4 linked regions of the Homo sapiens genome follow. The protein of the gene in region 2 purifies or fractionates together with the protein of the main gene of each other region. This does not show direct contact. Each region holds a gene or a part of one and is shown on either strand. Other genes may lie near its edges.

Evidence for each region.
Region 1: the proteins of ARSB (region 2) and TXK fractionate together in Homo sapiens (co-fractionation; one large-scale study listed by BioGRID). This does not show direct contact.
Region 3: the proteins of ARSB (region 2) and QSER1 fractionate together in Homo sapiens (co-fractionation; one large-scale study listed by BioGRID). This does not show direct contact.
Region 4: the proteins of ARSB (region 2) and IDUA fractionate together in Homo sapiens (co-fractionation; one large-scale study listed by BioGRID). This does not show direct contact.

Annotation. Positions count from the first base shown.
Region 1 is NC_000004.12:48,110,251-48,113,750, reverse strand, and holds part of TXK (tyrosine-protein kinase TXK), read left to right. Parts: exon of another isoform or gene 1-9; coding exon of another isoform or gene 10-89; intron 90-441; coding exon 442-544; intron 545-1,238; coding exon 1,239-1,444; intron 1,445-3,147; coding exon 3,148-3,213; intron 3,214-3,221; exon of another isoform or gene 3,222-3,500. UniProt on the Homo sapiens protein: Non-receptor tyrosine kinase that plays a redundant role with ITK in regulation of the adaptive immune response. Regulates the development, function and differentiation of conventional T-cells and nonconventional NKT-cells.
Region 2 is NC_000005.10:78,779,311-78,782,810, forward strand, and holds part of ARSB (arylsulfatase B isoform 1 precursor), read right to left. Parts: intron 2,665-3,500; coding exon 2,542-2,664; intron 1,353-2,541; coding exon 1,087-1,352; 3' UTR 1-1,086. UniProt on the Homo sapiens protein: Removes sulfate groups from chondroitin-4-sulfate (C4S) and regulates its degradation. Involved in the regulation of cell adhesion, cell migration and invasion in colonic epithelium.
Region 3 is NC_000011.10:32,895,811-32,899,310, forward strand, and holds part of QSER1 (glutamine and serine-rich protein 1), read left to right. Parts: intron 1-3,500. UniProt on the Homo sapiens protein: Plays an essential role in the protection and maintenance of transcriptional and developmental programs.
Region 4 is NC_000004.12:1,000,544-1,004,043, forward strand, and holds part of IDUA (alpha-L-iduronidase isoform a precursor), read left to right. Parts: intron 1-68; coding exon 69-154; intron 155-338; coding exon 339-446; intron 447-924; coding exon 925-1,020; intron 1,021-1,135; coding exon 1,136-1,338; intron 1,339-1,438; coding exon 1,439-1,618; intron 1,619-1,725; coding exon 1,726-1,942; intron 1,943-2,188; coding exon 2,189-2,401; intron 2,402-2,492; coding exon 2,493-2,614; coding exon of another isoform or gene 2,615-2,801; coding exon 2,802-2,927; intron 2,928-3,005; coding exon 3,006-3,082; exon of another isoform or gene 3,083-3,086; intron 3,087-3,468; coding exon 3,469-3,500.

The sequences.
Region 1 (3,500 bases), on a different chromosome or scaffold from region 2:
CACTATGAAATGGTGGAGCTGGGATTCAAACTCTTGTTCCTAATCACTATACCATGTCTATTTATAACAAAAAGACACCATCAAATGAGGTAATGCATATAAAATGACAAACACTGAGCCAGATATGGAGTAAGTTTTCATTACAATGATTATAACTTTATGCCCTGAAGATGCACCAGACTCTACTGGGAATGTGACATGTTTTCTCAATTTTATTTTATAACAACTCTATGCTCTTAGCACCTCTAGTTCCTGGAGAAGGAAACTTAAGTTCTTAAAACCAGTAATTTGCCCAGGGAGATGGAGTTAGGAAGCCTTCTAAATGAAAATGGAGTTGGAAAGAGACCTGGATTTTTCTGCTATTTCTGTGAAAATCTAGTGGATGTATAGATAACTTTTGTACAAATAATTATTTGTAACATGATTGCTTTTCAATGTCAGACAAATGAGAACACAGATAAGCCTGAGCACAGATGAAGAGCTTCCAGAAAAATACACCCAGCGTCGCAGGCCGTGGCTCAGCCAATTGTCAAATAAGAAGCAAGTAAGTATCATTTTGACAGGCAAGAGGGGAATGGAGAAGGTTGTCTTTTTAGAGTCTTCATTCATGAGGTGCTGTTTGTTGCCCAGAATCTAGTATCCTGCTTGGCATAAAATAAGTGCTCAGTAATTTGTGAAGGAATGTTCTAGAAGAAAGTAAAAGGAAAAAGAAAAGACCAGTTAAAATAGGCTACTTATATTTAAAGGCAGAACTTGAAAATGGGCAATGAGTGGGAAAAAACATATTCTGGCTTCTGTCATTTTGAGGCTGAGATTAATTTTCACTTCAGTGAGAAACAGCATTCTTAGGAAGTATGGTAAACCCAAGCACAAACTGCCACCACATAAAAAGAAAAAGGCCATTTTTCTTCTTTTAAGGAGAAAAAAAATCCTTAAAACAAGGTAAAACTATTGAAGAGGAGTACATCATCTTTTGAAAATTTTGATATGAAAAAAAATCCAGTAAAATGCTGTCAAGAGAACTTGTGATCTCAAAAGTGTACAAAATGATGAGTGTATTGCTGGATCCTAAAGGAGTTTTATAGTTAGTCCTTTTCTACATTTATCTCATCCTGGCTTCTGCCTTGGTGTAGCTGGATAAGAAAAGTGAGGCAGAAGGCAAATATGCTTTGTCCCTATATTTTTTAGTACAAATTATTAAAATGATAGTAAAACAACTCACTTATTGGTTTTCACAGTCCAACACGGGCCGTGTGCAGCCGTCAAAACGAAAGCCACTGCCTCCCCTCCCACCCTCTGAGGTTGCTGAAGAGAAGATCCAAGTCAAGGCACTTTATGATTTTCTGCCCAGAGAACCCTGTAATTTAGCCTTAAGGAGAGCAGAAGAATACCTGATACTGGAGAAATACAATCCTCACTGGTGGAAGGCAAGAGACCGTTTGGGGTAAGACACTTACATGACTTAGTCAGTATCCAATTCTTCCAACACAAAGAAGACTACTTAGTGACTCAGGCTTATAACTCTTCCCTCTGCATGAAATGGAATCTGTCCCCTCTCCCCCAGGATGTGTGAGAGAATGAGAGAACAGTGATTTCAGGCAGAGTCTCAGAACCAGATACACCTGGCTTCACATCCTGATGCTGCCGCTTACTATTGTGTGTCCCCGGGCAAGTCACTTACCGTCTCTGAGTTTTTGTTTCTTTATTTGTACAATGGAAATAATAATTCTGACAATGTAGGTTCTTATTCTAATTTGTGCTTTCATTTGGGAATTTGTCAGTTTTTTCCTGTTAAGCTCTAAGGTAAGAACAGAAATAGTATTTTATTCACTTTTATGTTTCTAGAATGACTAGTTTTGAAAGCAAACATTGCAGTCGCTGCTGAATTAGATTAGAAAGAAAAAAGACCCTGGGATGCAGATAGGTTTCATTGTGCCAATTGCAACAGATGGTTAATGCCTGACTGGAGTCCTGAGTTGAGAAGAATTCTGAGGAATATCTGGACTTCCTGAGAGAGAAGGCTGGCATTGATTTCTGATATTTGCCAAGATTTGGAGATTTTAAGTATCTAAGTATTATAAGCATGTAAATTACATACCTCTCCAACTACATTTTCTCAATGATGTGGCTCTCTTAACAGTTCTCAACATGTGGTGGAGACTTTTCAGTGGAAAAAGAGGCATTAGTAGGTTCAGGACTGTGTAATTAGCCACACCTGCGGGTATACTATTGGCATGCCTCAGACTTAAAAATTGAATTTTTTATTTCACAGTAAGTGAATAGAGTTTTTAAAAATATATAATATGCAAACATTAATGTCAAAATTCTGCTTTGCCACTACCTCCAAACCCAAGTGTCTCCCCAAAAGTAAATACTATTATCCATTTTCAGATTATTTTCAGTATACTTACATGCACATATCAAAATATATGGTATTGTTTGTAGAATTCATTTACCTAAATCTTATCTTACTTTCTGCATGATTCTGCAACTTACTTTTATTTCTCAATAATATGTCTTGGAGATCTTTTTGTAATTTCAAATGTTGGTTAAGGTATAGGAAAAGTGAAACTTCTACCATGCTGATAGGTGTGTAAGTTGGTATATCCTCCTTTGAGGACAATTTGTTGCATATCCTGAAAGATGTACATATCCCGTGACTTAGCAATTCCCGTCTTTGCTATCTGTCTTTGAGAAATATTCTTCTGTACAAGAAGGCGTGTTCAAGGATTTCTTTACAGCGTTGCTTCTACTAGCAAAGTAGCTAAACTAGAATACCTATGCTATGGAATACTCCTCAGCAATTGAAAAGAATGAAGTCGATGTCTTTGTAATTGCTGTGTTTTTAACATAATCACTATGATATCAGATGATCATTTAAGTGCCCCTTTTTCTCTCTGAAAAGATTGTGGGGTCATAAAACCTCTTAAACTACTCACATTACAAGTTGGCATCTTAATACATTCCTTGTACAGAGATTTTTGTTGAGTTAGAAATAAAAAAACTTTTTTTTCTCCTTTTAACAATTTAATCAGTAAAATGAATTTGATTTCCCCCCTACATCCTTGAGGTTTTAAAAGGATTGTTGCCATGATAATGCCACAAACATGCCAAGCATTTTGATTTTTGCTTTTTCTTTTGTTGTAGGAATGAAGGCTTAATCCCAAGCAACTATGTGACTGAAAACAAAATAACTAATTTAGAAATATATGAGTAAGTCTTCTCCAAAATATAACCTATGAAAATCAGGGACATTTTGGCAGCTTGTAAGTATAGATACTGTTTTGGGTCTGTAGAAGGAAAAAAAAGTAACACATTTGACAGCGTTAATAATAAAGAGACGTTTGATCCTTATCATGGTTGATTCAGAAACTTCTTTTCCTTATACTTATTTTTGTTCTGTTTTGTATAGCCACTTTTTCTGTTTTAACAGTGACAGCCTGAACCCAAACACTCATCTGGCACTTATTTTACTATATATCTTAACTGGAAAATTTACT
Region 2 (3,500 bases):
CTGCTTTACCAAGGCCCAGTATCCCAGACACTGGCCACTTGCTTTTTCATATCCTTTCCTGAGGTTTCTTCTCACTGCTAGTAAATAGCAGTGCAAGTCTTAATATATTATGAAATAAAGCTACAATCACAATGACTAACTCCATGCAATATAGGAAAAGCCTCGCTGAACAGATGCCACAGAGCCAAGCATCTCCCACCCAGCCCTCTTAGTGTCTACCATGAACATCCTCACAGAGCAACTCCACCGCCTATTACGGGGAGGCCTCTAGCTTCAGCCCTAGGGGCAAAAGTAAGGCAGGGCTCAGCAGCGTTCCAGAAATCAGGGGTGCTCAGGTAGAGAAGCAAAGTGGCCTTCCCAGGGATAGGACTACTGAGGTCAAAAGGAAAGGCAGGAAAAGCCACAGAAGAATTGGAAGTGGCAGGAAGTCTAGACAGAGTGAGCAATGGCTGGGGGGAAATAAATTACGATAAAAACACATTTCTTTATTTTAAAAGCCACAGTCATGGTGCAGGCATTTTGCTGTTGACCTGAACAACAAAATGGGCCTTATGCTCTGTGATGAGATAAGTGAGTAAGGGGTGAACCAAGAGGGGTGGTTCACTTGGAGTGCCTGAACATGATCCTTCACCGACAGGGAGAAGCCTTGGCCAACAGAACCATTAATCACTGTCTGCTCCCTTCATTTGCGTAAGAAATGTGATTCACTCCAATAAAACTGGCTATTGGCAGAGGGGAATCGAACGTCTGACTTGTGAGTCTAAAAGAGCCAGCTGTTCCAGCCTCCAGGATTCAGTGAGAACTTCCTATTTCAAGTTAAGTTCCCAGCTGTCCCAAGGCTTAGGAAAGGGGGATAAACCCAGCCACCCCCACCTCTAGACACATGCTCCAGCCAACAGCAGGAGTGTTGCAGATTTTATCAGCTTCTTAAATGCATTAGGGGTTGAAATTAGACACCTCGGTGTGGTTTAAGAGCAAGAGAAGGGCCAAGTGAACCCAGGTTGGGATAACAAATGAGACAAGAGTCGTGAGAAAAGGCCTGAGGTCCAACTTCCAATTGAAAGGTTTTCTAGCCTCCCTGAAATCCTACATCCAAGGGCCCCACACCCCAGTGGCCTTGGGATCACAGCGGGGGTCCTGTGCAGGGAAGTACACGGGGACTGAGTGTTTATGGTAGAACTGTAGGCGGGACAGGAGCTTTGTGACGATGTGAGGATATTCTCTGGACAGGTCATGTCTTTCTTCAGGGTCCCGATCAATATCAAAGAGCCAGAGGGTCTTGGTTGGTGGGTCTGATGAGGGTATCTCAGAAACATTGTATTGAGACGGTGGAGGGAACCAGTAACCACAGCCTAGCAAAGAAAACAAAACAGTTTACTGAGGGAGAAGCACAGAGGCAGGTTCTAATTTCAGGGAAGGAGTCTGAGGCCAAGGCTGCACTGGGTTGTGGGTGTGGAAACATAAAAAGATGCGGCCCTAGATGCTGTCTCTAGATGCTTCTCAGACTTGACTTCTGGTGCTTTAACTAGACATGTCTCACTGCTTCACAAGCAAGGACACCCAGAAACGTGTGTGCATGTGTGTATGTCCTTGTCACAAGGACTAGGGCATAGGGGTGCTCCTGGCATTTAGTGGGCATGAGCTAGTGATGCTAAAGTCTTGCAATACATGGGACAATCCCAGTCAAAAAAGACTTGTCATATTGCAAACGCCAAAAATGTTCTCATTGTAAACATTGATTAATTACATCACAGCCTTAACCATCATCCCACATATTTTAAAAGTATTGAAAAGATATCACTCTTAGAGAATATAATCAGAGGAGCAACCTCCTTCCCCAGCTATACCACTGGTTGAGGGTGTAGCTCTCAGAGACTCTCTTTGTTAGCTAAATGTGCTGTGCTTGATAGCCACATATATTTAAAATCCGTATTTTCCATGAAGCATAAGAGTGACATTTCTTCCTTTCACCCCTGCTACAGTTAATTCTCTCTGTCTTTCTCTCTCTCTCTCTTTTTTTTTTTTTTTTTTTTTTTTTGGTTAGGACGAGTAGGTTAAACCATTTCTTCCTATCTCCTCATTCAGCAGCCCCAGAGATATGTTTTGCAAAAGGCATTTGTTACTTCGGTAAGCTTCTCCTTGATGATCCACTGGGAAAGCTTACTTGCACCATGACAATGATGGAAGCTGTGTAATTGGGAACAGGCGGAGTCTTAGAATTGGGAAAAGAAAACCCTGAATAAATAGTTGTCTTTCTAGGACATATATCAGGAGGGATCATGAAAGATTAGAAAGACAAATTAAGATTTCAGGTATCTGAGCAAAGTGAGGTAAGTGGTAGGGCTTAGGGGCCTTGAGGAGGAGCCACAGAGGAAGAGGTGGGAAACGGTTAGAACAAGAGTGATAATGTCCTCTCTTTCCAGAGAAATGGCCGTGGGAATCAAATCCCAGGAGGGCAGATAGACTGGAGATACTGCCCTGAGGACACAGCCCTGCTTTGTCTACCACGGGAAGGGAAGTTTGCTAAGCTAAGGACTCTACCTGGGTAGCCCGTGAGGAGTTTCCAATTTCCATGTCTAATTGCAGCATGGACAGATGTGTTAAAGGCTGAATATTCTGGAAGAGAAGAGTCATCCTTTGCTGGAGCCATGCTGTTCCTGGGACCTGGGAAGAAATAGTTTGAAAGAATTAGATCACTGTTATTGGAACGTGTTGTTATAAATCAGCATTTTATACCCTTGCAGAACAGTAGCTTTTATTCAACACTGGAGTGCAAATGTGTATCTTGCCACAGAAATGAATCTTTTATTAAATCCAAACAGAAAGCTATAGTTACATGAAATGTCAGTCATAAACCACCGCAAATATAAAGGAAATCCCAAAGAGATTACAACACTAATTCATCCTTAAAATCGCTATGTTCTGCCAATGTACAGCTAGCCATATGCAGAACAGTGTTCTGTTACAGCAGAGTGACTTTTTTTTGGTTTTTGTTTTTGGCTGTTAAACATTTAAACACACTTTCTGTGTATACTTATACCTATGTAAATAGTATAAGAAATTATAAAATGTACATTTTCATGCAGTCATTTCAAGCTATGAGAGTTCATGCATGCCATGATAGAGTACAAAGACTTATTTTTTAACAACTCTTAAGGAATCTAAAAGTGAGCAGTGCTCAGTTAACTATTCAGACAGGATAACTATGGGGGTAAGAACAAATTTGGTATACAAATTTTTGGCTGGTATCATGGATTATATTAATTTATCATTTTTGAGATCTTAATTGATCATCAGGTTGGTTTTTTGCTTTTGTGGGGAGCAATTACTAATCTCTACCACCTCTTAAGTTTGAAACCAATTAAGAGGTAGAAGATAGACAGATGGAACAAAAAATACTGCTTTTGTTACTGACAAAATTGACTGGAGAGAATACAGCTTCAGATCTGTAGCAGAGAGATCTTGTTTGTAACTGACCCTTGACTTAGAAAGATTTAATC
Region 3 (3,500 bases), on a different chromosome or scaffold from region 2:
GGAAGGTACATGATAAACAGCTTTTCATGAGTTTGAAACAATACTTTTTTGAATACAACAGCTCTGTTAGTTATTAGGTAGTTTTATTGTACTAACAGTGGAAAAATAGAGTGGGAAACTCCAGCATTATACCTTAAATGGGGCTTATAGAAAGATTTTTGAATATTTCTCAGAGTACTTGCTAGGTACTTGGAAAGTACAGGGATAAGGACTGGCCATATAAATCTTCATTTATTTATGCTAATTTCAGTTCGTTTTAGGAACTAAATGAATGAACATGTCCTTTGCTGAACACCACGCAGTTGGAAATACCTTTTGGGGTGCAGTTTTGGATGTTGTAAATACCTTTGCATAGCTTGGGAAATAAGAAGGTCATCAAGAGTCTGCAGATCCATTGCCGCATTCTGTACTTGATACTTATATCTTGGTCACAACAGGAAGAGGCAGGCTGTTTTATGGTGATAATCGATGTGTTCGTATTTGAATATGCACCAGAAAGTAAGGGAATGGAAATATTTTGTATTTAAATAGGTTTATTTATTTTATTTTATTTTATTTTTTGCGATGGAGTTTCGCTCTTGTTGCCCAGGCTGGAGTGCAACGGCGTGATCTCAGCTCTCTGCACCCTCTGCCTCACGGGTTCAAGCAGTTCTCCTGCCTCAGCCTCCTGAGTAGCTAACCACACCTGGCTAATTTTTGTATTTTTAGTAGAGATGGGGCTTCACCGCATTGGCCAGGCTGGTAATTTTTGTATTTTTAGTAGAGATGGGGTTTCACTACATTGGCCAGGCTGGTCTTGAACTCCTGACCTCAGGTGATCCGCCCATTTTGGCCTCCCAAAGTGCTGGGATTACAGGTGTGAGCCACCGTGCCTGGCCTGTTTTTTGCCTTTCTAACTTGAAATAACTTTTGGCACCAGTTTTTAGAATTCCTAATGCATACTTTTTTTTAGTATGAGGTATAATGAGTATGATAAATACTCCTCTGAAAAACCAAAGTAATGATTAGCTCTTCTAAAACCTGTCAGTTTCTATATGATGGACATTTGTTTGATACATTTCAAATCTAGAGTTTTCCTCAAGGTTTTTGGGAAAAGGCCTTATAGATCATAATTTGTAAGGCGTAAGAACAATCTCAAGTTAATGAAAGGTTATTTCAGACAAACTTCCACTGTTAGAGTTCAGAAAGTTTTTTCCCATGGAAACCGTGTTGTAAGTAATAGTAGCTGTCATTTACATCACTAGCAACTAATTTGTGCTAGCTGTTTTAAGTCACACGTACATTCATTTATCAAAATTCATTTATCATGAATAAATGAATACATACATTCATTTATCAAAATTCATTATAAAAATCCTTTGAGGTAGGCATTCTTTTTACCATCCTTTTATGGATGAGGAAACTGAGGGATAGAGACATGAAGTAATTTATACCTACAGCTACATAGCTAGTAAATAGTGGTGCTGTGATTGAAACCTGGGCATTGCAGATCTGGAGCCTATGTGATAACCAGTGTACTGCACTGCTTTATTGTAAGATAGTGGAATGCTGTAATCCACCTATATGTGAAATGAGTTTCTGTGAGTTGGCCTGGAAACCTAAGCATCATTAATATCCTTATTTAAGTGTTCTTTGTCACCGTTGACCATTACCTAGTTGAAATACATTCCTTTTCACTTCCATAGCACTGTACTTGCCTGGTTTTCCTCCTACTTTTCTGGCCCAACGCTTTTTCCTGTTCTTCACTGGTGTTTACTCCTCTTCTGTCTAATCTCTGCATGTTACTGTTTCCTCAGGGCTTGGGATTGATAAATTTCTTGTTCATTCCTTGCTTTCTCCTGCGGACTCACATCCACGTCCATGCTTTTAAATACTATCTCAGTGGAGATGCCCATATTTGAGCAGACTCTTCTCAGGACCTCAGACTCTTCTGAAAACCTGATCACATAACCAACTACCTCTTTGACCTTTTACTTGAGCTTAATGATATGCTTTCCCCACCCATCACACCTCTGCTTCTCTAGTGAGGCCCATCTCAGTAGTCATACCTCTGTCCACTTAGTTGCCCAGGCCAGATGGTGGGAGTTGTGTGTGCTCAGTCACTAAGACCTACTGTTTTGAATCTAATGTCTTGAAACTGTCTGCTTCTTTTGTATCCACTGCTCCAGCTGGTCCAAGCCACCATTATTTTTCACTTGGACAACTGTGGTAGCTTCCTAACTTAGTCATCTTGGACCTTTTCTTTCCTCTCTTCAATTCATTCTTCTTATACCATCCAGAGTGATTTTTAAAAACACAGATCTACAAGTTTGCTCTTGGTCCTTTGCTTAAAGCCTTTCCATGGCTACTCCTACATATTAGGGTCACATTTTTAAACATCTGTAATATGGTCAGGCGTGATATCTCACGCCTGTAATCCCAGCACTTTGGGAGGCTGAGGTGGGAGTATTGCTTGAGCCCAAGAGTTTGAGACCAGCCTACGCAACGTGGTGAAACCCTATCTCTACAAAAAATAAATAGAAAAAATTAGCCGTGCATGGTGGCGTGCGCCTGTGGTCCCAGCTACTCTGGAGGCTGGGGTGGGAGGATGGCTTGAGCCTGGGAGGTGGAGGTTGCCGTGAGCTGTGATGGTGCCACTGCACTTCAGTGTGAGCGACAGAGTGAGAACCTGTCACACACACACACACACACACACACACACACACACACACACACACACATTGTAATGTGCTCTGTATGGCTCTGCGTTTACTGACCAATTTTTTTTAATTTATTTTCTTTTTTATTTTTTCTTGAGACAGGGTCTAACTCTGCTGCCTAGGGTGGAGTACAGTGGTATGAACACAGCTTACTGCAGCCTCGACCTCCTGGGCTCAGGTGATCCTCCCAAGTAGCTGGGACTACAGGCATGTGCCACCACACCTGGCTAATTTTTAAATTTTTTGTAGAGATGAGGTCTTGCTATGTTGACCAGGCTGGTCGGGAACTCTTGGCCTCAAGCAGTCTTCCTGCCTTGGCCTCTCAGGCGTGAGCCACCATGCCTCGCACTGGCCTGTATTAAATTCTTTGAATCATCCTAAATTCCTTCTTACCTTAAGGTTTTCATACATCGTCTTACCTTCACTTAGATAACTCTCACCCTATCCCCACCTCCCAGACTGACTTGTTAAGGTATCTCATGTGAGAAACCTGCAGTATTTTCAACCCTCACTCCTTGTTGCTTTGTGCAATGGTATATGTTTTCACAGAATATTTTATTTTACTTTCATATTCTTAGAAATATATACCTATGTATTGTTTATGTAATACGTATCTTCTTCAGAATGGAGGTTATTTGAAGAACCCCTATGTGTTTTGCTGTTATATTTGTAGTACTTAGTATTTACTTTAATCCATGGCATATAGTTGGTGCTTAATACATACTTATATCATGAAAGCCAGAACTCTGCTTCAGTGTGGGAATTGGAAGCCCCTTTCTTCCTGTTGCAGCCTCTAATGCC
Region 4 (3,500 bases), on a different chromosome or scaffold from region 2:
ACGGTTCCAGCCTGGAGCATGGAGCTGTGTGGGCACCCTGCTTCCTGACGCTGACCGTCCTTCTGCAGGGGGTCCACTGGACGGGGCCTGAGCTACAACTTCACCCACCTGGACGGGTACCTGGACCTTCTCAGGGAGAACCAGCTCCTCCCAGGTGAGCTGTGGGCTCTGCCCTCCCAGCCCGCCTGCACCCCCTTGCCCTGCCCACCCTCTCCCTCACCCAGCCCCTCTGAGTCCTTGGATGTCCATTCAGGGCTGGCCTTGGTGCCGGAGCACAGGCCTGGCAGAGCATGGGTGTGGTGTGTGGTGGGCGGTGGGGCAGCCCTCCTGTGTTCCAGGGTTTGAGCTGATGGGCAGCGCCTCGGGCCACTTCACTGACTTTGAGGACAAGCAGCAGGTGTTTGAGTGGAAGGACTTGGTCTCCAGCCTGGCCAGGAGATACATCGGTGGGCGAGCGCAGGCCCTGGGGCCCTGGCCGGGGCGGGGGTACTCCTGGGCAGGTTGCACCCCTATCACGCAGGCTGCTGCCTGGTCAGGAGATACATTGGTGGGCAGGCGCAGGCCCTTGTGGGGGGATGGGGGTGACAAGGGATAGGTTGGTGGTCGGCGCAGGCCCTGGGGCCCCAGGCTGGGGGGTACTCCTGGGCTTGGTGGGTGGGCGAAGGCCCTGGGCCCCTGGGGTGGGGGGTACTCCTGGGCAGGCTGCACCCCTATCACCCAGGCCGCACCCCTATCACCCAGGCCGCCGCCCAGGTCTTGGACCCCCTTGAGCCAGCGCTTCCTGATGTGGGGCGGGAGGCTGGCCTGCATGGAGATGGGGTTCATCTTGAGTCAGACGCCCTTCATCACCTTGCACCCTCCCTCCGTGGGAGTCACTGAGGCGAGATTCACCTGTGCTGGGGGGACAGCAAGGCTCCTCTGCAGGTAGGTACGGACTGGCGCATGTTTCCAAGTGGAACTTCGAGACGTGGAATGAGCCAGACCACCACGACTTTGACAACGTCTCCATGACCATGCAAGGTGTGCACCGCTTCCTGGGGTCCTGCCCGGCTGAAAGGGGGCAGAGGAAGGCAGGAGCAGAGGCTAAGCCGCTCATCCCCAGGGCAGGTGTAGACGCAGTGCTCCCCCGGCCCAGGCTTCCTGAACTACTACGATGCCTGCTCGGAGGGTCTGCGCGCCGCCAGCCCCGCCCTGCGGCTGGGAGGCCCCGGCGACTCCTTCCACACCCCACCGCGATCCCCGCTGAGCTGGGGCCTCCTGCGCCACTGCCACGACGGTACCAACTTCTTCACTGGGGAGGCGGGCGTGCGGCTGGACTACATCTCCCTCCACAGGAAGGTGCGCCCTGCCCCTCCGTCCGCCCCGGTGTTCTGCGCCCTCAGCCGCTGTGCCCCGGGCCGCGCTGACCCTGGTGGTGCTGAGGCGGCCCCGCCCGCAGGGTGCGCGCAGCTCCATCTCCATCCTGGAGCAGGAGAAGGTCGTCGCGCAGCAGATCCGGCAGCTCTTCCCCAAGTTCGCGGACACCCCCATTTACAACGACGAGGCGGACCCGCTGGTGGGCTGGTCCCTGCCACAGCCGTGGAGGGCGGACGTGACCTACGCGGCCATGGTGGTGAAGGTGGGCCGGCCCAACGCCCTGCGCGCCCCCCGGCCACCTTCCTCCCGAGACGGGACAGGCGAGCGGTGGCCGCGCCACCCGGTCCCAGCTGCCCTGGACACCCGCAGGTCATCGCGCAGCATCAGAACCTGCTACTGGCCAACACCACCTCCGCCTTCCCCTACGCGCTCCTGAGCAACGACAATGCCTTCCTGAGCTACCACCCGCACCCCTTCGCGCAGCGCACGCTCACCGCGCGCTTCCAGGTCAACAACACCCGCCCGCCGCACGTGCAGCTGTTGCGCAAGCCGGTGCTCACGGCCATGGGGCTGCTGGCGCTGCTGGGTGAGCCGGGGCCGCTGGGGTGGGCCGGCCAGGGCCCTCCAGGCTGGGGAGCGGCTCCTGCGAAGGCCCCGCTGCGGGGAGCGCACTTCCTCCAGCCGCGCGCTTCCCGGGGTCGGCCTCCGCGTGGCGGGGCCTGGGGACTCCTTCACCAAGGGGAGGGGGAGCGAGTGGTGGGAGGCCCGGCCCTGGGTCGGGGGGCGGCTGGGCAACGACCCCACGCGGCGACGGCCCCCCCCCGCCCCGCAGATGAGGAGCAGCTCTGGGCCGAAGTGTCGCAGGCCGGGACCGTCCTGGACAGCAACCACACGGTGGGCGTCCTGGCCAGCGCCCACCGCCCCCAGGGCCCGGCCGACGCCTGGCGCGCCGCGGTGCTGATCTACGCGAGCGACGACACCCGCGCCCACCCCAACCGCAGCGTCGCGGTGACCCTGCGGCTGCGCGGGGTGCCCCCCGGCCCGGGTAAGCCGGGGTTCCAGGGAGGTCTCTGGCCCCGCTGGGGCTCTGGAGGGGGCGGCCCGGGGAGCCGAGGCCTGAGTGTCAGGCCCCGCAGGCCTGGTCTACGTCACGCGCTACCTGGACAACGGGCTCTGCAGCCCCGACGGCGAGTGGCGGCGCCTGGGCCGGCCCGTCTTCCCCACGGCAGAGCAGTTCCGGCGCATGCGCGCGGCTGAGGTAGGTGGGCCGCGGAGGGGCGAGGGGCCGGGCCGGGCCGGGGTCCCGGGGGGGTGGGGTCCGGGGCGGGGGCTCCGAGGCGGTGTGGGTGGGAGGTGGAGCGGTGGGCCGGGGGCGTTCGCCCTGAGGTCGGGCCGAGCGTCCCCAGCTCCCCTGGAGAACCCTGAGGACCGGCCACTGCGCCCAGGACCCGGTGGCCGCGGCGCCCCGCCCCTTACCCGCCGGCGGCCGCCTGACCCTGCGCCCCGCGCTGCGGCTGCCGTCGCTTTTGCTGGTGCACGTGTGTGCGCGCCCCGAGAAGCCGCCCGGGCAGGCAAGTGGCAGTCCCCTAACCCGCGCCGCGGCCCGGACTCCCCTTCCCCGACGCCATCACAGCCCTTCCCTCCCCCAGGTCACGCGGCTCCGCGCCCTGCCCCTGACCCAAGGGCAGCTGGTTCTGGTCTGGTCGGATGAACACGTGGGCTCCAAGTGCGTGAGTGGGGCCGCCCCTCCCTCTGCCTGGTCCTAGGCAGGTCCCTGGGTCCCGACCCCTTCACCCATGCGGTCACTCGGGCCACTTGCCGTGGCCCATCGGCTCCCTCCCTCGCCGCCCTGCGTCCCTGCCCTTCACCCCACACACTGTGGGCCACGCGCCAGGCCCTGCCAGTGGGGTGTGGGTTCTCCTAGGGGACATGAGATGGACATTCGGGCTCCAGCCCTCTCCTGCCTGGGCAGGAAGAGTGCCCAGGGGCTGGGGAGGTGCCGCCGAGGGGCTTGAGGGAATGAGGCTGTGGGTCCACGCGGCCGTGCCCTGCCTGCTCCCACCTTTGAGGACTGTCTTGACCCCAGCCTTGTTCTTGGCCTGACCTCCCCAGGTGCCTGTGGACATACGAGATCCAGTTCTCTC